2 separate regions of the Homo sapiens genome follow, and region 1 is linked to region 2. Evidence: fine-mapped expression QTL. A gene starts in region 2. The other region holds a variant in brackets. All regions are shown on one strand. Distances are between the middles of the regions.

Region 1 (16,281 bases), 31 kb after region 2:
GGGATGGGTTGGGGGCGGGGTAATTATTTTATTTAAAAAAATACCGAGCAGCAAAAGGGGAGAAGATCCCACTACTCTCCCACCACCTGCCCTTTCTCTGAGGGACGTTTACCACGAGGCCTCAGGCTGGGGATGGAGAGAGTTGCTCTGGGAGTTGGGGTACCACCCCCAGGGCAGGATGGGGACAGGATCACCTGCCCGGGACACCACCATTATCATTCTCCTCTAGTGACGCAGCAGCTGGTTCTGGGAGTTAAAGGAGCATTGGAAGGCCCAAACCCTCTCCCTTGAGTGGCCACCCCAGCCTGGTTGGCTGGTTTTCCCCTTTTCTCTTGTTTCAATTGGGTCTTTACCTTGAACTCTCCTCTCTGGCTTTGCGGTGGGCTGTGGAGGCTGGTTTTGACCAAAAGTGAGTGGGGCGGGAGGAAGGGGCAGGAGGAAGGGTTGAGGTTACTTGGGGCGAGTCCCTTCCCCTTCAGAGAGGCTTCTATCCTTCCCAGGGAGGAGGCGCCGCTGAGACCCTTCTGCTGAGAGCTCTGCCCTCCCCTCATCACCTGGCCTGTGCAGAAACGCTCATGCACACCTGGCTGCACAGGTGTGCACGCATTACCCTTCGCGTGTACGTTCCCATGTGCCCCGTGAAAGCATGTGTGGCTGCAGACGTGTCCACATGGGCCTTGCGAACCTGGGTTAGAAACCCTGGCCAGGCGAACGTGGGGTGATTCACAGCACAAAAGACCTCACCACCACACCTGCACTCACCCCACCTTGCATGCACCTTGCTACCTGCTTGCGGCTTTCAGTGGAGGGCAGGGGTCTGGCACAGGTGCGATGGCACCCCATGCTCCAGGCATACAGATGTGGTTTCTCGGCTGCACCGGGCCAGGCTGCGGGTGTGCAGGCGTCTGCTAAGTTGTGTGATGTATCAGCACAGGCTTTGAGACGTCTGGACCCTGTCCTTCCTCCCGTGAGGGGTTCTTGTTCTTTCTGACTCAGGTGACTTTTCAGCCCTTCCAATTCCCCTCTTTTTCTGCCCTCCCCTCCAACTCAGCCAACCCAGGTGTGGGCAGTCAGGGAGGGAGGGAGTGTCCCACCACGTTCTCAGGGCAGCCCTTGACTCCTAAGCCCCTTCCTCCTTCCATTCTGCATCCCCTCCCCATCCAACCTAAATGCCACAGCTGGGGCTGAGCTGTATTCCTGTGGAGGGACCTCTGCCGTGCCTCTCTGAGGTCAGGCTGTGCTGTGTGATGGGCAGGCTTTGCCCCAGCCCACCCCTGGCAAGGTGCACTTGTTTTCTGGTTTGTACAAGGTGTCCTGGGGGCCCGTGGCTTCCCTGCCAGTGAGGAGTGACTTCTCCCTCTCTTCCAGTCCTGTAGGGGAGACAAAACCAGATTGGGGGGCCCAAGGGGAGCATGGAAAAGGCCGGCTCCCCTGTCTTTCCTTGGCTGTCAGAGTCAGGGTAACACACACCAAGAGTGGAGTGCGGCCAGCAAGTTTGAGACCTGCCCGCCCTCCTCGCAGCTCTGCTCTGTGTCCTCAGGAAGTCACAGAGTCTACTGAGGCAAGGAGAGGGTGATTCTTTCCCCAAATCCCTTCTTCCCTGGTTCCCAAACCAAAGACAGCCTGCAGCCCTTTCTGCATGGGGTGCTCTGTTGACAGGCTTCCCAGATCCCTGAGTCTCTCTTTCCTTCCTCCTCGATCTTTAGTTGTCCACGGTCAATTCAGTGCTTCCATTGGGGGACAGTCCCCTCCGGGATGACCTGATTCACCTCCAGCCCAGGGAATGGAATCTAGAGGAATACGTGGGGTGGGTCTGGACAAGGAGCGGCAGGAATCACCACCCATCTCCAGCTGTGGAGCCCTGTGGAGGGGAAGGGGAAGCTTGGGGTTCAGAGGGGACTCTTCCAGGAGAGGGGTGCCCAGCGGAGGTAAAGATGATAGAGGGTTGTGGGGGGTCTCTAGTTGAATGTTTTGGCCCATGACTTTGGAACATGGCTGGCAGCTTCCAGCAGAAGTCACGCTCCCCATCCCCCAGGGGACATAGGACCTTTTTCCTGCTTCCTGGTCACTTTCAAAGAACTATTTGCGCAATCTGTGGGTCTGTGGATTCACGGGGCTTTCTGTGTGGGTGCTGCAGTTGCTTTTGTCTGCAGCAGCAGGACACATCTTTCCTCTTACTCAGCCCTTTATGGCCCATGGGGAACTCCGTGGCTCAGGGAGAGCTGAACTCCAGGGGTGTGACCTGGGACGGGTGGGCCTGAGGTGCCCAGCTCAGGGCAGCCAGGTGGCTCATGGGCTGTAGTGAGCCAGCTCCCTGGGGGAAAAGGCTGTGGGCCGTTAGGACCATCCTCCAGGACAGGTGACCTCTATGAGGTCACCTACGGCTGTGGCCGTGCAGGCCTCCTTCCAGCCCAGAGTGGCCCAGTAGAGCAAGGCAGACAGTGACCTCCACCCCCGCAGCCCTCTTAAAAGGCCAGTACTCTTGGGGGTGGGGGGAGGGTTTAGAAAGCATTTGCCCATCTGCCTTTCTTTCCCCCAGCCCCCACCCGCTTTGAATGTAGAGACCCGTGGGCACTTTTCCTTTTGTGGTGGGGGGTGCGGAGGAGGTACCCCCACCCCTGGCACAGCCGCCTGGAATGCAGGACTGTCACTGCTGTTCGGGTGATGACCTCGTTGCCAAGCTCCTCCTGTCCCCTTGTTCTGGGGGCAGGCGCTGTGCTTCTGTGAGGTGGTTTAGCTTTTGCTTTCGAAGTGGCCAGCTGCGGCCACCAGGTCTCAGCACAAGAGCGCTTCCTTTGCACAGAATGAGCTTCGAGCTTTGTTCAGACTAAATGAATGTATCTGGGAGGGGTCGGGGGCACGAGTTGATTCCAAGCACATGCCTTTGCTGAGTGTGTGTGTGCTGGGAGAGTCAGAGTGGATGTAGAGCGCGGTTTTATTTTTGTACTGACATTGGTAAGAGACTGTATAGCATCTATTTATTTAGATGATTTATCTGGTAAATGAGGCAAAAAAATTATTAAAAATACATTAAAGATGATTTAAAAAAAAGAAAATTCCTGGGCATTTGATTATTCCTTCTGGTGGTTGTCAAGTGCATCCGTCCACCAACAGACTTTGTGCGAGCAACAAGGCTGTTTATTTCACTTGGGTGCAAGTGGGCTGAGTCCAAAAAGAGTCAGCCAAGGGAGATAGGGGTGGGGCAGTTTTATAGGACTGGGGTAAGCAGTGGAAAGTTACAGTGAAAGGTGGTTAGCTATTGTCAGCAGGGGAGGGGGTCACAAGGTGCCTGTTGGGGAGATCATAATACTCATTGTCCGGAAGAAGGTCACCAGGTCGATCAGTTGGGGCAGGGCAGGAACAAGCCATAATGGACCTGCAGGCCATCTGGATGTATATGTGCAGGTCACAGGGGTTACAATGGCTGAGCTGCAGCTCAGAGGCCAGACAGTGGTGTCCCCACTGTGCTGAAGAAAGAGCTTCAGCCCCTGGCAATGCCTGGGGTTTAGGTCCCAGGTCTGCTGGTCACCGGCCATAATCTCGGACAAGTCTTTCCCTTCGCTGAGACCCCAGATGGACAGAGAATTCACTGAGGTGACGGGAACAGGAAACTGCGGGTGTCTCTGGGTGAGGCCATCACCATGGTCCGTAGTGTGTCATCAGAGGCCTGGAAGTGCTTCTGGCACCTTTTATCTGCTTCTCCCCAAGAGTCCTTTATTCCAGAACCTTGGAGGGGTGAGCATCGCAGGTCTCTGCAACGGCAGATTCCGGATCGCAGGACTGTCATGGGGCTAACGCTCACCTACTGTGTGTTCAGCCAAGCTTAGCACACACATCTGAACGTTGAGACAGGTGGTCAGAGCCAAGGGCAAGTCCTGGGAGCACGTCTGCATTTCAGTGCATCATGGGCTGCAGGACAGAGGCTAGGCTGGAGCAGGCAGGGCTGATGGTGGGGAGAAGAGTTAAACAGTCTGTTGTAGCCATGCAGGTGGAAGGGGATGGTGGCCGCAACTGTGGACATGTCAGTGAAAGAGAAACAGATAGACTGGGGATAGGTTTAGGTGGTGGAAGCGTCAAGATGTGGCCACTGAATTGATGAAAGTGAGGGATCAAGAATATGCCTGGGACCTGGCACAATGGCTCATGCCTATAATCCCAGCACTTGGGGAGGCTGAGGTGAGCGGATCACCTGAGGTCAGGAGTTTGAGACCAGCCTGACCTATATGGTGAAACCCTGTCTCTACTAAAAATGCAAAAATTAGCCGGGCACCTATAATCACAGCTACTCTGGAGGCTGAGGCAGGAGAATCTCTTGAACCCAAGAGGTGGAGGTTGCAGTGAGCCAAGATCGCCACTGCACTCCAGCCTGGAGACTCCATCTCGAAAAAAAAAAAAAGGGGGGGAGGGGGATATTGGACACAAACACATGCTGTGAGATGACTGTGTGAAGACAGAGATGCCATCCATAAGCCAGGAAGAGAGGCCTACATCAGAGCCTTCTCTCCAAGCTCAGAAGGAACCAACCCTGCTGACCTTTGATCCTGGACTTCAGCCTCCACAACTGTGAAAGGATACATTTCTGTTGTTTAAGCTTCCTGGTCTGTGGGAGCTTATTATGGCAGCCGTAGCAAGCTGATGCAGCGTCCATGAGAACAGAGTCTAAGGCAGGGACTTGGGTGCAGGTAGTTTATTTGGGAGGGGGTTCTAGGAAGCAAGAGTGGAGACAGGGCCAGGGGAGGAGGGAAAGCCAGGGTAAGGGCACATTATTGAGGTGGGTGCTGTGGGAACAGGAGTTTGATTCCACCTGGACTTTCGGGGAAGGGTTCGAAACGCCTCCCGAAATTGTCCGTCCAACTGGGGATAGGAATCTATAGCCACTCTCCCATCCTTCCCATCCCATTACTGAAGCTGCTCTGGCGTGTTGACTTCGTGCACTTCTCAGCTGGGTCCATGCAGAGGCCAAGGCACCCCCACCTGGCATCCAAATTACCCACTAGGCAGAAAGTGAAGACTGGACCCTGGCCATGGCTAAAGGCAGAGATGAGGATGGCAGGGTGAGAGCTGAGCAAGTGGAAACACCTGGCAGAGGAAGGCGTGGCCGGGCTGGTTTCACTGAGTTCAGAGTGTGTGTGGGTTGGCAGTACAGGCAGCTCTAACACAGTGTCATACACCAGAACACAGATATTCATTTCTCACAGTTCTGGGGGCCGGGAAGTCCAAGACCAAGATGCCGGCAGATACAGTATCTGGCGAGGGTCACCTTCTCACTGTGTCTTTACCTGGCAGAGAGAGGATGCTTTGATGTCTCTTTCTTTTCTTCTAAGAATGCTAATACCATCATGGGGGCCCCACCCTCATGGCCTCAAGTAAATCTAAAGACCTCTCAAAGGCCCCACCTCCAAATAACGTCACACTGGGGCCTAAGGCTTCAACATAAGAATTTGCGGTGGGTGATGAGAGGGTGGACACACACACAGACATTCAGTCCATGATACAGGTGTTGAGGTAGAGTGGTCCCACAAGCAGTTCACAAACAGTTCTGAAGCTTAGGGGAGAAAAACACATTTGGTAGAATCGTGCAGTGGCACGATTTCAGCTCACTGCAACTCCACCTCCCGGGTTCATGCCATTCTCCTGCCTCAGCCTCCTGAGTAGCTGGGACTACAGGTGCCTGCCACCACACCCAGCTAATTTTTTGTATCTTTTTTAGTAGGGACGGGATTTCACCATGTTAGCCAGGATGGCCTCAATCTCCTGACCTCGTGATCCACCCGCCTGGGACTCCCAAAGTGCTGGGATTACAGGCACAAGCCACTGTGCCCAGCCTTTTTTTTTTTTTTTTTTTGAGACGGAATCTCCCTCTGTCATCCAGGCTGAAGTGCAATGGCGTGATCTCGGCTCACTACAACCTCTGCCTTCCAGGTTCAAGCGATTCTCCCGCCTCAGCCTCCTGAGTAGCTGGAATTACAGGCACGCACCACCATGCCTGTATTTTTAGTAGAGACGGGGTTTTACCATGTTGGTCAGGCTAGTCTCTAACTTCAGACGTCGTGATCCACCCGCCTCAGCCTCCCAAAGTGCTGGGAATACAGGTGTGACCACTGCGCCCACCCTGTTTTTTTTGAGACAGAGTCTTGCTCTGTTGCCCAGGCTGGAGTGCAGTGGCACGATCTTGGCTCACTGCAACCTCTGCCTCCCAGGTTCAAGCAATTCTCTGCCTGAGCCTCCCTAGTAGCTGGGATTACAGGCGCATGCCACCACGCCCGGCTAATTTTTGTATTTTTAGTAGAGAGATGGTTTCACCATCTTGGCCAGACTGGTCTTGAACTCCTGACCTCATGATCCACCCACCTTGGCCTCCCAAAGTTCTGGGATTACAGGCGTGAGCCACTGTGCCTGGCCTAAACTTTTTATTATGAAAAAATTCAAACATGCAGAAGTAGAGGCAGCAATATAAAGACCCTCATGCGCCACTCACCCAGACTCCACCATCCTCAGTGCTACCCCACACTTGCTGGGATGCAGATGCTGGGGCCTGGGCACATAGTGGTAGATAAAGCCACGGGTGGGGGAAGGGTCAGAGGAGGAAGAAGGCGATGTGCCTGTGTTTGGTGGTGGGTAGATTTATGCATGCCTGCCCCCAAGACCAAGGGAGGCAAGAGACCAAAGACAGAGGCTGACAAATCCAGTTTCTGAGAAAGAAACATTTAATGGGGACTTAAGAACAGAGGCCGTGTCTCCGGCAGCTGAGAGATGGCAGATCCCCGTAGCCGCCCTCCAGAAAGTGTTCTTTATATAGCAAGCTTTTAGGGTGAAACGTGTAGCTGGTCATGTCTTCAGACTTTGTTGTCAAGACTCATGAGCACTGGGGAGGCTGGATAAGCATCTTTACGAGGGGTCATCTGTGCGATGGGCATTGTTTAAAGACCTTGCTGCAGGACACATTGTTATGCAAGGGTCAGACACCAGTCCTCCTGGCGGTTACGCTTCAAGGTGGCGTCACTCTTGCTGTTTTCCTATAGCACGCTCGTGTATGTGTGTGCGCACGCATGCACGCACATGTGTATGCTCATAGGTGGTAACATGAGGGCTGATTCTGCCTCGTCCTAGTTTCCTGCACTGGGGGTAGAGTCTGGCTCTAGTCGATTGCTGGCAACTCCTTGGTGGCTCCCTTTAGGAAGTGGAGCACTCAGGGCCGGGCGCAGTGGCTCATGCCTGTAATCCCAGCACTTTGGGAGGCCGAGGCGGGAGGATCACCTGTGGTCCGGAGTTTGAGACCAGCCTGGCCAACTTGGGGAAACCCCGTCTTTACTAAAAATATAAAAATTAGACAGGCATAGTGGCGTGCACCTGTAATCCCAGCTACTTGGGAGGCTGAGGCAGGAGAATCACTTGAGCCTGTGAGGCGGAGCTTGCAGTGAGCCGAGATTTTGACACTGTACTCCAACCTGGGTAACAGAACGAGACTCTGTCTCAAAAAATAAATAAATAAAATAAAATAAAATAAAAAGTGGGGCACTCAGCATGCTTTGTCTTTAGCTTTAAGCCTTAACCCAAGTTCTGAATCCCCAAGAACATGTCATGGCTGGGTGTGGTGGCTCAAGCCTGTAATCCCAGCACTTTGGGAGGCCAAAGCAGGTGGATCACTTAAGGCCTGGAGTTGGAAAGCAGCCTGGGCAACATAGCGAGACCCCGTCTCTATGAAAAATGAGAAAAAATTAGCTGGGTGTGGTGGCACCTCTAGTCCCAGCTACATGGGAGGCTGAAGCAGGAGGATTGCTTGAGTCCAGGAGGTCATGACTGTAGTGAGCTATGATCATGCCATTGCACTCCAGCCCAGGTGACAGAGTGAGATCCTGTCTCAAAGGAAAAAAC[G/A]AAAAACAAGAAAAGTCTCAGAATTGCCCTGGTACACGTGCTCAGTATAGCTCTTGTGTATGTTGTTACCTGCATGCTGACAACGACTCTCTGAGGTAGGTACTATTGTTGCACCTGTTTCTGTGAGTGGAGACAAGTGGTTAGAGAGGCTGCGGTTAGTTACTCAAGGCTACATGGCTAGGACGTAGCAGAGCAGAGACTTGAACCTGTATCTGGCACCAGACACCTCATGACTAATCCTTCTACAGCAGTTCTCAAACTTTTTGGTTGCTGAATCCATATACATTCTTAAAAACTGTTAAGAACCCCAGAGAGCTTTTGTGTATGTGGGTTATAGCTATCAATATTTATCATATTAGAGGCCAGGTGCAGTGGCTCACGCCTGTAATCCCATCACTTTGGGAGGCCGAGGCAGGTGGATCACCTGAGGTCAAGAGTTTGAGACCAGCCTGACCAACATGGTGAAACCCCATGTCTACTAAAAATACAAAAATTAGCCAGGCGTGGTGGCAGGCGCCTGTAATCCCAGCTACTTGGGAGGCTGAGCCAGGAGATTCACTTGAACCCAGGAGGTGGAGGTTGCAGTGAGCCGAGATCCCACCACTGCACTCCAGCCTGGGCGACAAGATCGAGACTCTCTCCAAAAAAAAAAAAAAAAAAAAAAGTAATGGCTTCATTATTTTTTAATGAATTAGATATTTTTAAATTTCTCATATATATATATATATATATATATATATATATATATATATATATATATATATATGGTTTTTGTTTTGTTTTTTTTTTGGAGACAGCCTTGCTCTGTTGCCCAGGCTGGAGTGCGGTGGCGTGATCTCGGCTGCAAACTCTGCCTCCTGGATTCAAGCCATTCTCCTGCCTCAGCCTCCCGAGTAGCTGGGAATACAGGTGCCCACCACCACACCCAGCTAATTTTTGTGTTTTTAGTAGAGATGGGGTTTCGCCATGTTGGCCAGGCTGGTCTCAAACTCCCGACCTCAGGTGATCCACCTGAGCCTCCCAAAGTGCTGGGATTACAGATGTGAGCCACCGCACTGGGCCTGAAGCCATTACCTATTAACATAAGTAACACATTTTATGAAAAATATATTTTCCAAAACAGAAAGATTCAGTGAGGAGAGTTGGCGTTGCTTTACTCCCCGCCGTGTCCCCCCCACGCCCCGTTGCCTCTTTTTTGTTTGGCTTAATAGTTAGGTGGATTATCATATCTCCTGCGTAAAAACCTGTTGCAGTATTGCATGGCATGCAGCCTCTGGAAAATTCCGCAGTTCGTTGTGAGAACATGAGAGCGGGAAGACAACATCTTAAACATGATGATGAGAACCGTGGACCTTACAGGCCCTGAAAAGGCTGGGGGCACACTTGGAAGCCACCGTCTTCTTCCCTGTAGCTCGCCTGGGCAGGTGGCCACAGCTAGCCATCTGAGGCCGGTCCGTGGTCCATTCCTGGAAGGCGTGGCTTCTGGCCGGTGCCCCGGGAGAGCTCATTGCGTGGAGATCCCCTGTCAGCGCCCCGCTTCACAGTCCCCCACGCTTCACCGTCCACCTCCCAGCTTCACTGCCCTCCCCCGCCCCCCTCCCCGACCCCCTCCGCACCCCCCCATCCCTGGCCGCTTCACTGTTCAGTCCGGATGCCTCCTGGAAAGAAAAGCCATACAGCACGAAGGAAAGCAGGCGCGGGAAAGTTCCTGTGAAGCTGGAGGGGAGGGGGCAAGAGAGAAAAGCTGCAGAAGGAAAGAGGAAGGAATGCAGGCACTAGGGGAGAGGAGGGGACGGCGGTCGCTGGGGTCAGGGGAAGGCGGACGCCTCTTCCACTGTCCTGAGAGGGAGGAGGCACAGAGGAAGCAGGCCCCAAGGGCCGGGTGCCATGAGAGGGAGAGGGAGAGGAAGAGCAGCACCCCAAGAAGGTGGAGCAGGGGAGGGAGGCCGCCCGGCTGGCCTGGGGTGGGGCAGGTGCAGCCTTCCCGGCTCCCCAAATTGCCCAGCTGTCCTGAAAATAAATCCCATGGGAAAGCGGGGAAGAAGCTGCCCCACCCCCGGACCCCCAGGACCTCCCTGTCCTCCTCTTGACTGCACCTTTGGGCCCTGCCTTTTAGATGGAATCCGATGGCTCTGAGCCCCGCCTGCCCCTGCACCCCCTGCCTCCTTCCTCCTTGTGCTCCTCTGCTGGCCTCCTCCAGTGGCTTCGGTGCTTTCTCACCTCACTGGATCCGTTCTTATTAATTAATTTATTTATTTATTGAGGCAGAATATTACTCTGGTTGCCCCTGCTGGAGTGCAGTGGTACCATTTGCGCTCACTGCGGCCTTGAGCTCCTGGGCTCAGGTGATCCTCCCACGTCAGCCTCCCAAGTAGCTGGGACTACAGGTGCCCACCACCACGCTGGCTAGTTTTTTGTATTTTTGGTAGAGATGGGGATTCACCATGTTGCCCGGGCTGGTCTCAAACTCCTGAGCTCAAGCGATCTGCCCGCTTCAGCCTCCCAAGTGCTGGGATTACAGGTGTGAGCCATCTCGCCTGGCCTCACCGGGTCCATTCTGACTTTGGGAGGGTGTGGTGGGATTTGGGTCCCTGCCCACCACAGACAGGGGGTGGGAATCTTTCAAGGAAGCCATGTGGCTGGGGGGATGCGGGGAGGTCTCCTCTGGAGAAGGAGGGCCAGGTTCCGGTTGATGGCCAGGCCAGGGCAGTCAGGCCAGCGGGAGTGCAGGCCATCGTCCCTGCCTTGCTGGAGGGAGAGCACTTTGCCAGAGAGGAAGAGCCTATGCCTCTCACCTGTCCATTTGGGGGCTCACTTTTCCCCTGTCTGTCTGATCATCCAGCTGACACTGTGCATGTCCGGTTCACCTGGGGTTGTAAGGTGAACAAATGCATGGCCATCCTCAGAAGGCCTGCTTCTGTCTGGTTTTGGCCTCTGGCTTTGAGGCTTCAGTTACTTGCAGGTGATCTTAATTTTAAGTAAAAATGGCCGGGCGCTGTGGCTCACGCCTGTTAGCCCAGCACTTTGGGAGGCCGAGGTGGGCGGATCACGAGGTCAGGAGATCAAGACCAATCCTGGCTAACACGGTGAAACCCTGTCTCTACTAAAAATACAAAAAATTAGCCAGGCGTGGTGGCGGGTGCCTATAGTCCCAGCTACTCAGGAGGCTGAGGCAGGAGAATGGTGTGAACCCGGGAGGCCGAGCTTGCAGTGAGCCGAGATGGCGCCACTGCACTCCAGCCTGGGCGACAGAGTGAGACTCCGTCTCAAAAAAAAAAAAAAAATTTTAAGTAATAAAACAGATTTTTTAATAGTTGCTTTATTCAAGATATTTTTGTGTATGGAGAGGAATACTCATTAACATTGGTACTTTATTGCTCAATTTATTCAAGTAATATAACTCTGAAAATCAATTTTCCTTAAGCATTTAAACATTATTAATTTGATTAATTATAAATCTAGTATTATAAATCTAGACTGATTCTTTTGAACACTCCAGACATCTTAACTAGCAGGCCAGACACACACAAATACAGTATTTCAGATTGATCGAGATGGCGGGATCTGAGCAATCTAATGATTGATTCTTTACAGAGTTGCACAAACCAAGGAGATTTAAACGGAGACCTTTCATCGTCAGGCCGTGTCTCTTTAAATCATGATAACAATGTTTATTTGTGGCATCCGGGACTAAGTTTCTTTTTGTCATAGAGGTGCTACTGGGGTACCTGTCAGAGTGGAGGAAAATGATGTGCAGCCACTAGAGGGCCCCTGAAATTTATTCTTTATATTTATTTATTTATTTTTAACTTTTACAAAATAGAGCTGCGGTCTCTCCATGTTGCTCAGGCTGGTCTCAAACTCCTGGCCTCAAGCGATCCTCCAACCTCTACCTCCCAAAGTGCTGGGATTACAGGCGTGAGCCACTGTGCCCAGCCTAAAATTGATTCTTCTTCTTAGTTATTATTATTTTTGGTGGCAGAGCAGAAAAGCATTTCTAAGTATATAAATACCTCTGACTTGACTTTTTACATCATCCTACCTAAATATGTTGTTGTTTTACTGACCACTAAGAATTTCTCTATATTACACACACGCACACACACACACACACAATCTCTTTCTCTCTCTCACTTAAATGAACAAATGAAAATATATTGTGTATAATTTCTTTTTTTGAATGCAGTTTATTTCATTTTGGCTTTTTTCTTTCTTCCTTTCTTTCTTTCTTTTCTTTTTTTTGAGACGGAGTCTCACTCTGTCACCCAGGCTGGAGTGCAGTGGTGCCATCTTGGCTCACTGCAACCTCCACCACCCGGGTTCAAGCAATTCTCCTGCCTCAGCCTCCTGAGTAGCTGGGATTACAGGCGTGCACCACCACACCCGGCTAATTTTTGTATTTTTAGTAGAGATAGGGTTTCACCATCTTGGCCAGACTGGTCTCAAACTCCTGACCTCCACCCGCCTCAGCCTCCCAAAGTGCTGGGATTATACATGTGAGCCACCTTGCCCGGCCTTCTTTTTGGTTTACTGCTCCCTGCTCCCCACATCCCTTGTTTCTTCTCTCCCACTTCACACGGCTCTTCAGATAACTCATGTAAATGATCTTGGAATACAAGAAATATTCTCCATGATCATAGAATTTCAAAGGAACATAGGTACTTGTGCATGAGCATATGTAGGTTTTTTCATTGTTTTATAAAAACAACATCACGTGATGTATTAGGATTCTCTAGAGGGCCAGAACTAATAGGATCTATCTATCTATCTGTCGATCTATCTATCTATCTAATAAGATCTATCTATCTATCTATCTATCTATCTATCTATCTAAAGGGGAGTTTATTAAGGAGTATTAACTCACACAATCACAAGGTCCCACAATAGTCCATCTGCAAGCTAAAGAGTAAGAAAGCCAGTCCAAGTCCCAAAGCTGAAGAACTTGGAGTCTGATGTTCGAGGGCAGGAAGCATCCAGCATGAGAGAAAGATGTAGGCTAAGAGGCTAAGCCAGTCTGGACTTTTCACGTTATTCTGCCTGCTTTATATTCTGGCCTCACTGGCAGCTGATTAAATGGTGCCCACCCAGATTAAAGGTGGGTCTGCCTTTCCCAGCCCACTGACTCAAATGTTAATCTCCTTTGGCAGCACCCTTACAGACACACCCAGGATCAGTACTTTACATCCTTCAATCCCATCAAGTTGACTCTTAGTATTAACCATCACACATGATTATACACATCATTCTGTCCCTTTTCTCAATAATTTCTTGTAGAAATTTTGGCTGCATACTAGTCAATGGTGTGAATGTACCATAAATTACACATTCATCCACCAGTGGGAATTCACTTTATTTCCAATTTATTTACCCTGCAAACAGCATCGCACTACTGATGACAAGCAGGCAACTGCGTTGGAGAGGGAGGTCATCATGGCTGCAAGGAAGGGACCGGACCCATATAATATACTACCCCTAAAGGCAGCTTCAGGCACCAAAGAAGACCCTAATTTAGTCCTCTCCATCACCAACAAGAGAAGAGTGGGCTGCATCTGCGTAGAGGACAACAGTACCATCACCTGCTTTGGGCTGCACAAAGGCGAGACCCAGTGATGCCCCAGCTATGGAACCCATTACAAGCTGGTGCCCCGCCAGCTGACGTACTGAGCACCTGCACCAAGTTACCCAAAATGTGCTGCAAAGTTTCTTCTTTCCAATAAAGAGTAGCCATTGCATTGGCTCCTTCTCCCATTAAAAAAAAAAGAAGAAAGGGCCGGGCGCGGTGGCTCATGCCTGTAATCCCAGCACTTTGGGAAGGCGAGGTGAGTGGATCACCTGAGGTCAGGAGTTTGAGACCAGCCTGACCAACATGGAGAAACCCCGTCTCTGCTAAAAATACAAAATTAGCCGGGCTTGGTGGCGCATGCCTGTAATCCCAGATACTCAGGAGGCTGAGGCAGGAGAATCGCTTGAACCCAGGAGGCAGAGGTTGTGGTGAGCAGAGATCGCACCATTGCACTTCAACCTGGGCAACAAGAGTGAAATTCCTTCTCAAAAAAAAAAAAAAAGAAAGAAAGAAAGAAAGAAAGAAAAGAAAAAAGGCCAGGCATGGTGGCTTATGCCTGTAATCCCACATCTTTGGGAGGGCGAGGCAGGAGGATTATTTGAGCCCAGGAGTTCTAGACCAGCCTGGCCAACATAGTGAGACCCTAACTATTTAAAAAAAAAAAAAGTCACATGCAGATTTTTTTTTTTTTTTTTTGAGACAGAGTTGCCCAAGCTGGAGTGTAGTGGGATAGTCTTGGCTCATTGCAACCTCTGCCTCCCGGGTTCAAGTGATTCTCCTGCTTCAGCTTCCCGAGTAGCTGGGATTACAGGCACACGCCACCACACCTGGCTAATTTTTGTATTTTTAGTAGAGATGGGGTATCACCATGTTGACCAGGCTGGTCTGAAACTCCTGACCTCAAGCGATCCGCCTGCCTTGGCTTCCTAAAGTGTTAGGATTACAGGTGTGAGCCACCATGCCTGGCCTAGTTGTCTATTTGTATCTTTTCCCATACAGACATTTTAGATTTTATGTAATCAAATAGATCTATATTTTTGTTGAAGGTCTCTGGATTCTCTCTTTTAATTATAAGGATTTTCCTAATTTCTGTTTTGTACATGTCTTCTGGATTTTTTTCTAAGATTTTAATTTTTTACATTGAAGCTCTGAGCCATCTGGAATTTATTTTTGCATATGGTATGAAAAAGGACTCAATTTTCTTCCAGATGGATAGCCAGTTGTGCCAGCACCATTTATTAAGCAGTCCAGAGTGTCCACCGAAATTAAGGCTATTGAGGCAGAAATAATTTGATAAAGGTTTATTGGAAGCCAAATGTGATGATCGACCCAGGAAGACACACCAACAAGGTTGGGGGTATTTCAGAGTCTGTCACAAGGTTTTTTTTAGGAAAGTTTAAAAGAAGGAAGGGGGAGCTGGGCGCAGTGGCTCATGCCTGTAATCCCAACAATTTGGGAGGCCGAGGTGGGTGGATCACCTGAGGTCAGGAGTTTGAGACCAACTTGACCAACATGGTGAAACCCTGTCGCTACTAAAAATACAAAAAAAAAAAAAAAAAAATTAGCCAGGCATGGTGGTGCATGCCTGTAATCCCAGCTACTTGGGAGGCTGAGGCAGGAAAATCGCTTGAACCCAGGAGGTGGAGGTTGCGGTGAGCCGAGATTGTGCCACAGTACCACAGCCTGGGTGTCATGAGCAAAAATATATCTCAAAAACAACAACAACAACAACAAAAAACAATGGAGGGGGACTCCTTTCCTTAGAGGGTACAACACAGAGGTTACCATCACCATCATGGGGTACAGATGACATCATACAGGATAAGAATGCCTACACACAAGACAATCAGTCGAACTTCAGACTTCAGCTCACCTTAAAAGAAATCAGTGTCCTATTTAGTGTCTGCAGGTTACACACTGATCAGTACATCAATCATTTGAGAAATTTATGATAAGATTCTTTAGTTGGAGACGCAATGTTACCATCGAGTCAAAAGACTGTTGCAGAACCCCAAAGGGTAGGTTTGAGTACCTGACACGCTGTAAGCCAAGCACTGACATGTGGGCGCTTAGGAGCAGAGAAAGGTTTATTCAATTTGGCCACGGCCTGAGGATGGGAGACCCAAACTCTCGAATCTGACCTTCCTTTGTAAGGTGGGTAGGGCGGGAGGTGAGATTCCCCCATGATCAAAGCTGTTTGCGTCCCTTCGTCAATCAAACTTCTGGACATCGCCAAGGAGGTCGCATGACCTCAGGATCTTCATTCTTCAGAAGCAAAACAAGTTCATGAATCTTGCAGGCAGCCTCCAGGGGGCAGAATGTGACGTTAATCAATTACTAGTGAATTGGTGAACACCCTCTACTTCAATGACCACATGTGGAGGAAGAAAAGAACAGAGAAGAAAATAAGTAACCAACATCTTATGGTTGTTATAGCATAGGCTGGGTTACAGCTCCCAAGGTGGATTGCTTTGGAAGCCTGCTTACTGTTGAACATGACTTGAAGGTTATCAACAGTTATTCATTCAATTACTCATGAATTTTCTGGGCAGCGGGTGGGGGATTCCCCGAACTGAGGACTCTTTCCCGTTTCGGACCATACAGGGTAATGTATAGATGTTGCCATGGCATTTGTAAAACTGTCAAGTCACTGGTGGTAGCGGTAGCGTCTTTTAGCACAAGAATTAATTTTAATTAGCATATAATGAGCGGTGAGGATGATCAGAGGTTTTGGCAGGTTTGGTCCGGGCCTCTTTACCGCATCCTGTTTTATCAGGGGGTCCTTGTGATCTGTAACTTGTGAAACCAGCCCTGCTGAACTACCTCAATATGAAAATAGTCTT
Region 2 (15,083 bases):
AAAAAAATTAAAAGGCAAACCAGTCTTGGTGAAAATATTTATATAAAGAAATCTTTTTTTTTTTTTTTTTTTTTTTTTTTGAGACAGAGTCTTGCTCCGTTTGCCCAGGCTGGAGTGCAGTGGTGCCATCTTAGCTCACTACAACCTCTGCCTCCTGGGTTCAAGTGATTCTCATGTCTCAGCCTCTCAAGTAGCTGGGATTACAGGCACACACCACCATGCCCGGCTAATTTTTGTATTTTTAGTTGAGACGGGGTTTCACCATGTTGGTCAGGCTGGTCTCAAACTCCTAACCTCAAGTATCTGCCTGACTCGGCCTCCCAATGTGCTGGGATTACAGGTGTGAGCCACCATGACTGGCCAAAAATTCTTGTAACTCAAGACTAAGAAGATGATCTGATTTTTAAAATGGGCAAAATATTTGAAAACGCATTTCACCAAAGAGGATATATGAATGGCAAATAACTACTTGAAAGGGTCCTCAACATCATTAGCCATTAGAGAAATGCAAATTCTCTACATTCAGTCAGTATATGGGCAATAAATAGCTAAAATTGAAGATTGACAATATCAAGAGTTGGTGAGGATGTGGAGCAACTGGAACTCTCAAATAGTGTTGGTGGAAATGCAAAATAGCACAGCTACATTAGAAAACAGTTTGGAATTTTCTTTAAAAGTTACTATACATGGCCAGGTGCCATGGCTCACACCTGTAATCCCAGCACTTTGGGAGGCCGAGGCGGGTAGATCACCTGAGGTCAGGGGTTCAAGACCAGCCTGACCAACATGGAGAAACACTGCCTCTACTACAAATACAAAAATTAGCTGGGCGTGGTGGTGCGTGCCTGTAATCCCAGCTACTTGGGAGGCTGAGGCAGGAGAACTGCTTGAGCCCAGGAGGCGGAGGTTTCAGTGAGCCAAGATCACGCCACTGCCCTCCAGCCTGGGCAACAAGAGCAAGACTCCATCTCAAAAAAAAAAAAAAAAAAAAAGTTAAAGTTACCATACATAGGCCAGGCACAGTGGCTCATGCCTGTAATCCCAGCACTTTGAGAGGCCAAGGTGGGTGGATCACGAGGTCAGGAATTTGAGACCAGCCTAACCAACATAGTAAAACCCCATCTCTACTAAAAATACAAAAATTAGGCCGGGTGCGGTCGCTCACGCCTGTAATCCTAGTACTTTGGGAGGCCGAGGCAGGTGGATCACCTGAGGTCGGGAGCTCGAGACCAGCCTGGCCCACATGGCAAAACCCCATCTCTACTAAAAATACAAAAAAATTAACCAGGTGTGGTGGCAGATGCCTGTAATCCCAGCTACTCGGGAGGCTGAGACAGGAGAATCACTTGAACCCGGGAAGTGGAGGTTGCAGTAAGCCGAGATCACACTACTGCACTCCAGCCTGGGTGACAGAGTGAGACTGTCTAAAAAGAAGAAGAAGAAGAATTGTTCCACATTCTTGCCAGTGCTTGCAAGATTTTTTTTTTAACGGTCTCTCGCTGTCACCCAGGCTGGAGTGCAGTGGCGTGATCATATCTCACTGCAGCCTTGAACTCCTGGGCTCAAGTGATCCTCCCACCTCAGCCTCCTGAGTAGCTCAGAGTACAGGCATGCACCACCACACCTGGCTAATTTCTGATTTTTTTGTAGAGACAAGGGTCTTGCTATATTGCACAAGCTGATCTCGAACTCCTGGGCTCAAGCAATCCTCCCACCTCAGCCTCCCAGAGTATTGGGTTTACAGGCGTGAGCCACCACACCTAGCCTGCTTGCAATAATTTTTAAAACGGACTTTAACATTTTTGTTAATCAGTCGTATCTCATTGTGGGATTTTATTTGCGTTACTCATGAGCTTGAACAACTTTTCACAACTGTTGGCCACTGGTGATTCCTCTCTTTGCCTGTCCAAGTCTTTGCCACATTCTGCACTCCTGTATTTTGCTACAACTGATTGTCCATCTTCCCACTTGATTCACAGGAACTCTTTACATCACCTCCTTTGTCCATTTATGAGTGTTTTAAATATTTTTCTTTTCTGTTCACTTTATATATATTTTCTTCTTTTCTTTTCTTTTTTTTTTTGAGACGGAGTCTCACGTTGTCGCCCAGACTGGAGTGCAGTGGTGCCACCTCAGCTCACTACAACCTCTGCCTCCTGGGTTCAACCCTGCCTCAGCCTCCCGTGCAGCTAGAATTACAGGTGCCTGCCACCACGCCTGGCTAATTTTTGTAGTTTTTAGTAGAGATGGAGTTTTGTCATGTTGGCCAGGCTGGTTTGAACTCCTGACCTCAGGTGATCTGCCCGCCTCAGCCTCCCAAAGTGCTGGGATTACAGGTGTGAGCCACCGCGCCTGGCTCTTTTTGTTTTGTTGTTTGTTGGTTTGGAAATGGAATTTCACTCTTGTTGCCCAGGCTGGAGTACAGTGGTGCAATCTCGGCTCACTGCAACCTCCGCCTCCCAGGTTCAAGCGATTCTTCTGAGTACCTGGGATTACAGGCACCCACCACCACGGCCGGTAATTTTTTGTATTTTTAGTAGAAACGGGGTTTCACCATGTTGGCCAGTCTGGCCAGGCGGGTCTCGAACTCCTGAACTCAGGTGATCCACACACCTCAGCCTCCCAAAGTGCTGAGATTATAGGCATGAGCCACCGCTCCTGGCCTTGTTTTTTTAAGACAGGGTCTCACTCTGTCACCCAGGCTGGAGTGCAGTGGCACGATCTCAGCTCACTGCAACCTCCACCCCACAGGTTCAAGCGGTTCTCCTGCCTCAGCTTTTCAAGTCGCTGGCTGACTTTATATGTATTTTCATAAAGAAAGCTCATAGTTTTAATGGAGTCTAAGTTATCAATTGTTTCCTATATGAATTATGTTCCTGGTTTCTTGTTTAAGAAACGATTCCCTACTTCATGATCATAAAGATAAAGATATTTTAAAATATCATCTTCTAAAAGTTTCAGAATTTTGTCTTTCACATTTAGGATTTGAAGTCAGATGGAGTCAATTTTTGCCAGGCAGGAGGTCTAATGGTCTAATTTCCTGTATGAATAACTATCACCATTTATTGAAAAGTGTATCCTTTACCCAGTGACTGCAATTTTATTCTCTCTCTCTCCTTCTCTCTTTGACTAAGCTCTCATTGTCATTCCTTTTTTTCTATTTGTCTAGTCTTGAACAATAGGACATTGTTTTATTTGCTATAGCTTTATGTCTTGTTGTTGTTTTTTTTTGTTTGTTTTTTGTTTTAAACAGTCTCGCTCTGTCACCCAGGCTGGAGTGCAGTGGAGCCTGAACCTCCCAGGCTCAAGCGATCCTCCTACCTTAGCTTCTAGAATAGCTGGGATCATAGATAGCTACATGCCACCATGCCTGACTAAATTTTGTATTTTTAGCAGAGATGGAGTTTTGCCATGTTGGCCAGGCTGGTCTCGAAATCCTGACCTCAAGTGATCCTCCCGCCTTGGCCTCCCAAAGTGCTGGGATCACAGGTGTGAGCCACCGTGCCCGGCCAAAAAAATAAATTTAGATCTTCTTTAATGTCTTGCAATATAATTTTATGATTTTATTCCATAAGGGCCTTGCATATTTTCATTAGATTTATTCCCAGATATCTTACATATTTTTATTATAATATAAATAATATTTTACTTCATTTTCTAATTATTACTGGCATATGGAAACACAAAACACAATAGGTTTTTGTCTGTTGATATTTTATCCAACAATTTGCTAAATTTTCTTATTAATTATAATAAATATTCTGAAGATTTTTAAAATTTTCTACATAAAATCTGAAAATAATGATGGTCTTCTTTCTTTCTTTCTTTTTTGAGACAGAGTCTCACTCTGTAGCTCAGGCTGGAGTGTATTGGTGCGATCTTTGCTCACTGCAACCTCCGCCTCCCAGGTTCAAGCAATTCCCCTGCCTCAGCCTCCCGAATAGCTCGGACTACAGGTGCAAGCCACCACGCCCGACTAATTTTTGTATTTTTAGTAGAGACGGGATTTCACTATGTTGACCAGGCTGGTCTCAAACTCCTGACCTTGTGATCCGCCCACCTCAGCCTCCCAGAAGACTTCACCTATAAGCTATTGAAGGCCTCCTAAAGTGCTGGGATTACAGGCATGAGCCACCACGACTGGCTGATGGTCTTATTTCAAATCACTTCACCTTTCTTTCATTTGTTGTCTTTTTTTTTTTTTTTTTTTTTTTTTTTTTGAGACCGTCTTTCTGTGTCACTCAGGCTGGAGTGCAGTGGTGCCATCTCAGCTCACTACAACCTCTGCCTCCTGAGTTCAAGCAATTCTCCTGCCTCAGCCTCTCCAGCAGCTGGGATTACAAGTGCCCACCACCACACCTGGCTAATTTTTGTATTTTCAGTAGAGATGGGGTTTCACCATGTTGACCAGGGTGGTCTTAAGCTCCTGACCTAAGGTGATTCACCTACCTTGGCCTCTCAAAGTGCTGGCATTACATGAGTGAGCCACTGCACCTGGCCTCATATAACTTTTGACTCTCCCAAAACTTAACTACTAATAATCTACTGTTGATTGGAAGCCTTACCTATAACATAAACAGTCAATGAACGCATATTTTATATGCTACATGCATTATATATTGTATTCTTACCATAAAGTAAGCCAGACAAAAGAAAATGTTATTAAGAAAATCATAAGGAAGAGAAAATATATTTACTCTTCATTAAGTGGAAGTGGATCATCATAAAGGTCTTCATCTCTTCATGCTTTGTAGGCTGAGGAGGAGGAGGAAAAGGAGGGGTGGGTCTTGCTGTCTTGCCACCTCCCAGAGGTGGAAGAAGACTCATGAATAAGTGGACCCACATAGTTCATACCTGTGTTGTTCAAGGATCAACTGTAATTTAAAATTTTCTAAAATCTTCATTAAAAATTAATTTATAGGCCAGGCGCGGTGGCTCACGCCTATAATCCCAACACTTTGGGAGGCCAAGGCGAGCGGATCACCTGAGGTCAGCAGTTCGAGACCAGCCTGACCAACATGGCAAAACCCCATCTCTTCTAAAAATACAAAATTAGCTAGGCATGGTGGTGCATGCCTGCAATCCCAGCTACTCAGGAGGCTGAGGCAGGAGAATCGCTTGAACCTGGGAGGCGGAGGTTGCAGTGACCTGAGATCACGCCATTGCACTCCAGCCTGGGCAAGAAGAGTAAAACTCCGTCTCAAAAAAAAAAAAAAGATGAATTTTTTGTTTAACCTAATGTATCAAAATATTATCATTTCCATATTAAATAAATATCAACTTATTAATGAGGCATTTTACATGTTTTGGGTACTAAATCTTTGAAATCTGGCCTGTATCTAATTTTATTCTTCTGTCTGAGTTCGAACTAGTCACATTTCAAATGCTTGACAGTCACATTTGGCCAATGGCCACCACAGTGGGCAACAGATTCAGGATATCCAGTGTGATGTTTAGCAGAAATGGGGATTCATCCAATCTTGCCTTGTAACTGATCTCAAGGGGATGTTTTCCACATTTCAACATTCATTAAGATATTTGCTGTAGGTTTTTTATAGAGCCCTCTACCAGGATAAAGACATTCCCTTGTGTTGATAGTTTGCTACAAGTTTTAAAACAAACAGATGTTGAACTATTTCTGCATATACTGAGATGATCACATGTCTTCCTCCTTTAATTTTTTTTTTTTTTTTTTGAGTGGAGTTTGCTCTAGTTGCCCAGGCTGGAGTACAACGACACGACCTTGGCTCACTCCAACATCCACCTCCCGGGTTCAAGCGATTCTCCTGCCTCAGCCTCCGGAGCAGCTGGGATTATAGGCACCCGCCACCATGCCTGGCTAATTCTCCTTTCATTTTTTAATGAGGCAAATTATATTGACTGGTTTTCAAATGTTAAACCAACCTTGCATTTCTGGATTAGACCCAATTTTACCACTATGTAGTATCATTTTTACATACTGCTCAATTTGATTTGCTGTTTTATTTAGGATTTTGGTATCTATATTCATAAGTGACATTGGCCTGTAATTTTCTCTTGTGCTGTACTTGCCATATGAAGAATTGGGAAGCAGTCTCTCTTTTTCTATTATGTGGAAAAGTTGGGGGTAGCATTGGAATGAGTTCTTTCAAGAGCTTATAGGTGAAGTCTTCTGGGTCTGAGCTTTCTTTGTGGAAGCATTACCGGTTTCCTTCCTTTAATCATTATGGGGAGGTCTGATGTCCAGCTGGTGCCATAGGACTTCAGGTTGCTCAAATTCCAAAATAATTTCATACCAATTGGTATGTAGCCGCTACGATCAACCTCCTAAGTGCAATGACTCTTCCAGGGATGCCCCAGATCCCCCAGACCTTCTGATGTCACATAAATCACGGAATTACTGCCTGGACAGCCTTCTGGACCCTGCTCCATGTGAAGGCTGGAAAGTGTTTCAAATGGTCAGTAACTGGCTATGAAAGTATTTCATAATTTGGTACTATGACTAGGGATGGTACTCATTCGGGTTTTCTCTTCATCTTGCGACCATTTTGGTAAGGCATATTTTCCTAGGAACTTGCCCCTTTCATTCAAATTTTTACGCTATTGTAATGAGACTATTCATAATATCCTCTTTTATTTTCCTTTTTAAAATGTCTACAGGTTCTGTAACTTTTAATTACTGATATTAGTTAATTGTGTTTTCTCTCTTTTTTCTTGATCAATTTCAACAGGAGTCGTCCATGCCATTAGTCTTTTCACAGAAATAATGTTTGGTTTTGCTGATCCCATTTCATTATTTTCTCTTTACCATTTCTTCTTCTTCTTTTTTCTTTCTTTCTTTTTTTTTTTTTTTTTTTTTGAGATGGAGTCTCACTCTGTTGCCCAGGCTGGAGTGCAGTGGCATGATATAGGCTCACTGCAACCTCCGCCTCCAGGGTTCAAGCAATTCTCCTGCCTCAGCCTCCTGACTAGCTGGGAGTACAGGCACGAGCCACCAAGCCTGCTCATTTTTATATTTTTAGTAGAGATGGAATTTTGCCATGTTGCCCAGGCTGGTCTTAAACTTCTGACCTCAGGTGATACGTCTGCCTTGGCCTCCGAAAGTGTTGGGATTACAGGCGTGAGCCACTGTGCCTGGCCTATTTTCTCCTGTACCTTTACTCTTGCCTTCCTTTCATTTTCTTTGGTTTATTCTGCTGCTCTTTTTCTAGCTTCTTGAAACGAGCGCTTGTTCATTACTCTCAGCCTTTTCTCTTTACTAATATAAGCACAAAAGGCAATAAACTTCCCTCTAAGAAGCGCACTAGCCATAGCCCAACATTTTTACTATGTAATATTTCTATTGTCATTCAGTTAAAAATATTTTTTTCATGCTTAAAGGCAAATGTATTCAGTTCCTTTCCATGCAGCACACAATAAGTTTATCTATGTGCTTATTTCTTTTCCAAATCAACAGTTTGAGACAACCTTTCAGGGTCTGCTCATCCTCCATGGCGAGTCATCTTGCAATGTGATCTGGTAAGTGTCTTGCATGGGGGAAAAGGAACCTTCTTGCTGACCTACAGATTGGCCACATACGGGGTGTATGGGAGGAGACCTAACAACTATTGCCTCTTCTGCCACCATCAAGCTCATGGTAGGGCCACATTAACTTTTTTTTTTTTTTTGGAGACGGAGTCTCACTCTGTCACCCAGGCTGGAGTGCAGTGGCGCGATCTCAGCTCACTGCAACCTCCGCCTCCCGGGTTCAAGCAACTCTCCTGCCTCAGTCTCCCAAGTAGCTGGGATTATAGGTGCCTGCCACCACGTCTGGCTAATTTTTTTTTTTTTTGTATTTTAGTAGAGATGGGGTTTCATCATATTGCCTAGGCTGGTCTCAAACTCCTAAGCTCCGGCAATCCACCCGCCTCGGCCTCCCAAATTGCTAGGATTACAGGCATGAGCCACCGCACTTGGCCAAGGGCCACATTAACTTGTACCAAGAGATGCTTATAGAAGCCACTCGGATTTGCTACAGCAGGGAGGAAGGCACAGGAGAAGAGGAGAGACTTGATGTCCTATGATGGAGTGTAGAGACTGCTGGATGGAAAAAAAACAAGAACAATGAAAATAAGGTCATCTTCCTTAGGATGCCATGCCAAACAGAAAGCCTCCGAAAAATCCCCCAGTCACTAGAACATTCTTCACAAACGACACCACCTCCTCAGCTTTGCTCCTGACCTTGGTAGGTATCTGATTGCTCTTAAGGGATCTTCAGCAGCTCTTTGGCTTTCTTTATATCTTTCTCCACTCGTTGCCAGTCAACTTTGATGTACCCAGTATGATTTGCAAGCTGAAGGAGAAAAAAACAAAACACCTCCCACAACTGTTACAGCCAACTTTCCAACCTTCTGGGATATGAAACCCGTGCACCATTCAGTGACACCCCCAATGAACGGCTGGGTTGCCACCCTTCACTTTTCGGGGAAGGTCCAGATTCCTGCCTGAACAGCTTACACCACCATGGCTGTTTCTTAGCAAATTCCACAAGGTCCAGCGACTCAAAATTTCCCTCAAAGTTTGCTTGACTGGACTCGGCCATTTCATCGAGCTTGTCTTGCGAGGACACACGCAGAGGATCCGCGCTGTAGGAGGCGGAGTGGCACACAGAGTCATCACCACTGGTTGGCTTCCAGCACGAGGGACAGATTTCCATTCCCACGGCGACAGCGGAAGAGCAGTTAAAAATATTTTATAATTTCCATTACAATTTCTTTTTTTTGAACCGCTAGTTAACATAAAAACGTACCTCTTCCGTGGCTCATGCCTGTAATTGTAGCATTTTGGGAGGCCAAGATGGTTGAATCACCTGAGGTCAGGAGTTCGAGACCAACCTGGCCAACATGGTGAAACCCCACCTCTACTAAAAAGACAAAAATTAGCTGGGGGTGGTGGCGGGTGCCTATAATCCCAGCTACTTGGGAACCTGGGAGGCAGAGGTTGTAGTGAGCCAAGATCGTGCCACTTCACTTCAGCCTGGGTGAAAGAGCAAAACTCTGTCTCAAAATAAATAAATAAATATAATGAAAAACAAAAACAAAAAAACCCATACTTCTTACTTTCCAAACATATGGGGCTTTTGAAGTGAACTTTTTATTATTCATCTCTAGCTTATATGTGTTGTGGTCAGAGAATGTATTCTGTTATTTCTGACTTTTGAAATTTATTGAAATGAACTGTTTTTGTAAGTATTCCATGTCTTGTAAAGGGGAGTATTTTACCATGGTAGATAACAGTGTGCTATGAAGTCCATTAGTTAAGTTTATTAATTGTGTTCAAATCTCCTATATACTATTGAATATTTTTCTTCTTCTCCTACCACTTATGGAGGGGTGAGTGTTAAGATCTCCCACTATAATTGTGGATTTGTCTATCTCTCCATCTAGCTGTCTTCTTCATGTTTCTTATATTTTAAGATGATTTGCATACAAATGTGAAATTGTTCTATTTTTCTGGTGAATTGGACACTTTTCATTATGAAATGACCTTATTTATCTCTAGTGATGTTTTTCCCTCGATATTAAAATAACTGCACCAGCCTTCTTTTCGTTAGCATTTGCGTGGTATTTTCCCCCCATGTGTTTACTTTTGACCATCACTAGCTTTATGTTTTGGAAGTGTCTCTTGTGGGTTTCTCTTGTAAACTGCATCTAGCTATTTATGCATTCTGATAATCTTTGTATTTTAACTGCAATATTTAGTTGCATTTATTGAATCACAAAATATTCGAATTTATAGCTATCGTCTATTTGTCCCCTCCCTGCCCCGTCTTGTATTTATTTTTCTCTCCATTCTTGCCTGCTTTACAGTTGTTTGGGTTGGTTTAATCATTCTTTTTCCTCCTCCAATAATTTGGATAACTATACACAGTATTTCCAGTCCTACAGTGTTTATCCCAGTAATGACAATCTGGATTCTTAAATTCGTCAAAGTGTATTTGGTATCTATCTTCACCTTCCTCCTGAAGAATATAAGGATCTTAGAACACTTTAACTCCATTCACCCAAGTAAATGCCATCACTGTTGTGTATTTTAAATCTGTTTTTATCCAGAAGTCATTGTTATTGTTTCACACTATCGCTGTTCTTCATTTTTCTTTATTCCCAGTTGCATCAGACCTCCGTCTGGGATCATCTTTTTCCTGCCTGAAGTTCCAGCTTTGGAATCTCCCTCCGGAGGGTCTACCAGTGGCAAACTCTTAAGTTTTTGTATTTGTAAGTGCTATGATTTCACCTACGTTCTGGATACATGTGCCTCATACTGGGTACATAATTCTTGAAATACATTTTCACTGAATATATAATTCTAAGATGATGGTTATTTTCTCTCTGGCTTTGTTGCTCTTGATGAAAAGTCAGGTGTGAATCTATTATTCTCTTTTTCTATGTGCCAGAAAGAGGTGTTGGATTTTATTGTGAGGGAAATAGGGAGGAAAATTTTTAAGCACAGGGTGACCCCGTCAGATCTGCATTTTAGAAGCACACTCTGGCACTGTGTGGCTGAGATCGGAGGGAGGGCAGCTCCGCGAGGTCTCTGCTGTGGTCCAGAGAAAAGACGGGGCGAACCTGGGAGGTGGGTGCGGTGAGGGCAGGCAGACCCGAGTCCCCGAGGGGATGCCGGAGCGACAGAAGTTGGGGTCAGTACAGGAAGGAGCAGGGACGACGCCGGGCTCCCAGTGAGGAATGGAGGCGCGTTAGCGAAAAAGGAAGGGGGGTGGGGAATCAAGAGTTCGTCTCGTGCCACAAATGGTTGAGCCCCCACTAAGCACCTAGCGCCCAGTACACGCGGGTTTGGGGAAGGCTGGGGCAGCGCGGCGGCAAAATCCGTCCCCGGGGGACCTCAGCTCCACCGCGGCCGCTCCTGCCGCGAACGAGGGCCCGGCCCGGGAGCCCTCGAGGCAGCGCCCGCGTCTGACCCGTGCGTCTGGGCACCGACCACCGAGGGTCGGGTGGATGGACAAATGGAAGGGCGGATGGAGGGGTGGGTGGACGGACGTGGAGACACTGGCCAAACTGCGCCGCGGAGAAGGCCGGATTAGGGAGACCTCGGCCCTGCGACGTCCGGACACGGTGGGAAGCCTTTTGGGTCCCGGCTCTCCTGCAACTCGAGGGGCTGCGCCTCGGGCCCAGTCTCCTCCGCTGCGGGAGGTGAGCAAATGGCCTCCCCGCTCTGAGCCTTGACTTTGTCGTCGGCTCCACTGGGCCCTGCCACTTCGGCCCCTGGCAGTCACCGGGAGGCTATGAGGCGCCCGCCTGGGTATTAAGGATCACGTCCCGCCCCGGCGTCACAGCAAGACGGGGCGCGCGAGCCTCCGCCCCGCCCCAGCCGGTGACCGAGCCAAATAAGTCCCACGGCAGCGCTCGCGGCTCGCGGCCCGCGGCCCAATCGCAACCCGCGGGGGCGGGCCCCGGGGGCGGGGTTCCGATGGGGGCGGGGCTCGGGGGCGGAGCTGACCCTCAGGGCGCGAGCCGAGCCCGCGGCCGTTCCGCGCGCTCCCGCCCCGCCCCCTCCTTGCGCGCGCTCGCTCGCTGGCGCCGAGGAAAACGTTGCGCAGGTTCAAAAATGGAACGTCGGCGGCGTGAGGGAGCGCGAGGGGGTGTGCGCGCGTGCGCGTGCGCGTGCGCGCCCGGACGAGGGTGACGGGGACCCCGCCAGCCCCAGCATCGCGCGCCGCAGCCGCGGCCCCGCAGCTCCGCCCCCGGCCCGGCCCGGCCCCGGGCCCGCTCGCCCGCCGCCCCGCATGGAGCTGTCAGCCATCGGCGAGCAGGTGTTCGCCGTGGAGAGCATCCGGAAGAAGCGCGTGCGGAAGGTGAGGCTGCCCGGGGGCGGCTCCCAGGACCCCAGTGGGGTCCCTCCCGTCCCCAGCACCGCTCCCTCCACGCTGGGGCTGAAGGGGAAAGCGGGGCGCGGGGGCCCCGGCAGCCCTGCGCTGCTGGGCCCGTCTCCCCAGCCCGTGCCTCAGTTTCCCTGCCACCGTGTAGGGCGAGTAGAACAAAAGTTGTCGCTCCAGGATGCTAGTGGCGGCCGAGCCTGCCTGAGCTGGAGATTAGGATCGGACGTAGGGATCCTCAGCGCCATCCCACCTCGCTCCCCTTTTATTGTAAATATGGGGAGACTGAGGCCCAAGTTGAAAGGACTTGCCTAGCGCGTTATGGTCAGAGCTGGGTTTTGAACTCGGGACTCTGGACGCTTGGCACCAAATCCTTTCAAGTTGTAAGTGGAGCTTTGGAAAAGTCTCCTCCGGCCTCTGAAGTTTTTCCTGCTGGACTTTGGCCTTTTCCGATCCTGCCCCCTCTACGCCACCCGAGCACATCCCTATTCCCCGCCCCCACCCCCACCTCAACTCCTAGCCCAGGCCAGGGCTCTGAAGCCCGCCCCCTGCGCTGGGGCATCCCCTAGTCTCCTACCCCATCTGCCTTCTTCAAAACATACACCCTGCAATTTAAGGAGGTGTCTGTTCTGCTGGTTTCAGAACCCCACACTTTGGGGCTAGACTTTGTCCGGGCCTGGCGTCTACACCTCCCGTGCACTTGTTTGGCGAGGGGGCTCGCCTAAGGCTGGGGAAATCCTTGGGGAGAAGTTCCTTTCCTGGTACGCACTACTGTCCTTCCTTTGTCTCCTCCTCCCTGCAGCCCTTTGGGAGGCTCCAGGCCGACTGGGAGGGGCCTTAGGGGGTCACCTCCTCCCATTTAACAGAGACAAAAACTGAGGCCCAGGCAGAGGAAGTGACCTGCTCAAGGTCACCGAGCAAGTTAGATAGGGAGGTAGAGCAGGAGCTCAACTGGGCTGATTGGCAGCCCATCTTCTTTCTCCATAGAGAAAACTCAGTCCTGGCATCTCGGGCCAAGGGTGAAGGTCAAGGTGGTCAGGAGCATCTTTTCTTCCTCCAGCTGTGCTTGGGGTTTTACTCTTCTGATTGAGGCAGCTGTTCCTCCTCCTTCTCCTTTTTCCTAGGGTTTTCTCCACTTAAAAGAGAATTGATTTATTCCACAAAGCTCAGTGCTTTTCGTGCTGTGTAGCCTGAAGCAGGCACAGCACTAACTCCCTCTACGATGGAGCCCGCAGGGTAGCACAAGAGGGCGAGATCATCATTCCTTCGGCCAGTCACTCAAAATATTTATTGAGGGTTGGTCAGGTACCAGGCACCAGTCTAAGCCCCAGGGATCCACCCCTTCCCTCAGGGAGCTGGCATTCTGCAGAGGCGGCACACAGTGAATGAGGAGATACAGACAGATGCCTTCAGATGGAGCTGTGTGCTCTGCAGAAATAGAACTGCAAGGTGCCAGTGGAGACAGCATGGGAGAGGGTCACCAGGGAAAGCCTCTGTGAGGAGGTATCATATTTTGGTCTTAAAGTTCTGGCGTGCAGGGGCTTCACTCACAATGGGGTTGGACTGTAAACTTTTTTTTTTCTTGGCACCAAGATCTCACTCTGTCACCCAGGCTGCAGTGCAGGGGCATGAACATGGCTCACTGCAGCCTCAACCTCCCCGGCTCAAACGATCCTCCTGCCTCAGCCTCCTGTGTAGCTGGGACCACAGACAAGTGCCACCATGCCCAACTAATTTCCTTTTTTCAGAGACAGGGGTCTCACCGTGTTGCCCAGGCTTGTCTCAAACTCCTTCCTGGGCTCAAGCGATCTTCCAGCCTCAGCCTTCCAAAGTGTTGGGATGACAGGCTTGAGCCACCGTAACTGTAAACTTTTAAAGCCTGTGAGGAAGGGAGGGGCCTGGCTCTACTTTCTAACAACCACAGGGCTGACCACCCCTTCTGAAGGTGGAGACTTTGCCAGTCTTCCATGGGGTCCTGCCAGGGTCTTTTGAGTTGAGAGTCCTCAAGTCACTGGCCCATTACCTCTGAGCCAGAGGCAGCCACTCACAGACTGAAAGGGGACTCAGCAGATGGGGGAGGAGCGTGGGGACTACCCCAGAGAGGAATGTTTTCGTATTTGGAGACTCTTCCAATCTAAAAAAGAAAGTAAGCGTTCCCACCTGTGCACTGGGGCTCTAGACACTGTGGGTCTTTGGCCACGCATGCACACCTCCATGCAGTCTCAGCTCCCAGTGTGTGACATGAGCCCTGGGCTTGGGCCTCAGGAGCCTCAGAGGTGGCTGGAGCCAGACGCACTCCTGTGCTGTCCTAGGGAGGGCAGTATGGGGCGGGCATGCAGCAGTCGCGGTTATATGGGTTGGCGAGGATCTGGTGGACAGTCCCCGGATTGTGTTTGTGTGTTGGGGAGACACCTGTCTGCAGATGGGATTTGGAGCTGGGCTCCTTTGGGCCTTAACTGTCCTTCCGAGTGGCTGTAGGGGCAACCACGAGACTCACTGTGTCTGCTTCTCTCTCTTCTCAGGGTAAAGTCGAGTATCTGGTGAAGTGGAAAGGATGGCCCCCAAAGTAAGCTCCTTCATGTGTGTGTGTCTGTCTGTCTGCCTACCGACCCATGCATTCCTCCACCTGCCTTTTGCCCCCTCCCCTGCCTAGCTTTTAGCTCCAGCTACTCTTGTAACTGGACAGCTGACCTTGATTTAATCATCATCTTCTCTGGGCCTCAGTTTCCCCCTGGACCACAGGAGGGTCAAGGTGGGTCTCCAGCTTCTCTTCTCACCCTGCCCTCCTGAGTGTTGAGCTCCTCTGCTAGTTGGAGCTTCTGCTCTCCCTCCTCCCCTCCCTGTGGCTTTTCTTGGCAACTGGGAGGTGAAGGCCCAGCATCCGGGCTACTGGAGATGGCTGCTGGACAGGAGGAGGGGACCCCAGCTGCTTTAAGCACAGTGCTGCATGAGTCCTCAGTGCTGTGTGGCCAGGGGCAGAGCCTGAATCCCCCTCACCTCTAGACGGCACTTTCCAGTCTATAGAGCAGGTTCCCATACAGCTTTGTAAGGTAGGTGTGATCAGGCGCTCTCAAGGTGAGGAAACAGGCTCAGAGAGGGTAAGCAGCTTGCCTTAGGTCACACAGCAAGTGGAGGCAGAGTTGGGACTTGAACTAGGCCTTCTCCTTTTCAGGTGTCTCCTCTGTGCCTTCCCAGCCTCCCATCTCGGAGTTGGGAGGCAGGGAGCTGTATCTGA

The links.
Region 1: its variant is fine-mapped to the expression of CBX7 in whole blood (TOPMed, PIP 0.91).

What each region holds. Positions count from the first base shown.
Region 1 is chr22:39,117,547-39,133,827 of GRCh38, reverse strand. CBX7 (chromobox 7) reads left to right here. Exons shown (of 6, transcript NM_175709.5): 6 at 1-3,056. It also overlaps the pseudogene COX5BP7. Among named protein-coding and RNA genes, the nearest start is that of CBX7, 27 kb to the left of the region's middle. RefSeq lists enhancers at 1-201, 1,841-2,402, 15,828-15,977, 15,988-16,087 and a silencer at 5,130-5,179. The variant G/A (reference allele first, on the strand shown) is at 7,876.
Region 2 is chr22:39,149,120-39,164,202 of GRCh38, reverse strand. It overlaps CBX7 (chromobox 7), which reads left to right and starts at 11,523. Exons shown (of 6, transcript NM_175709.5): 1 at 11,523-11,827; 2 at 14,371-14,414. The coding sequence starts at 11,759. It also overlaps the pseudogene FUNDC2P4. RefSeq lists silencers at 11,217-11,786, 11,857-11,906 and enhancers at 11,364-11,945, 15,025-15,083, 14,981-15,083.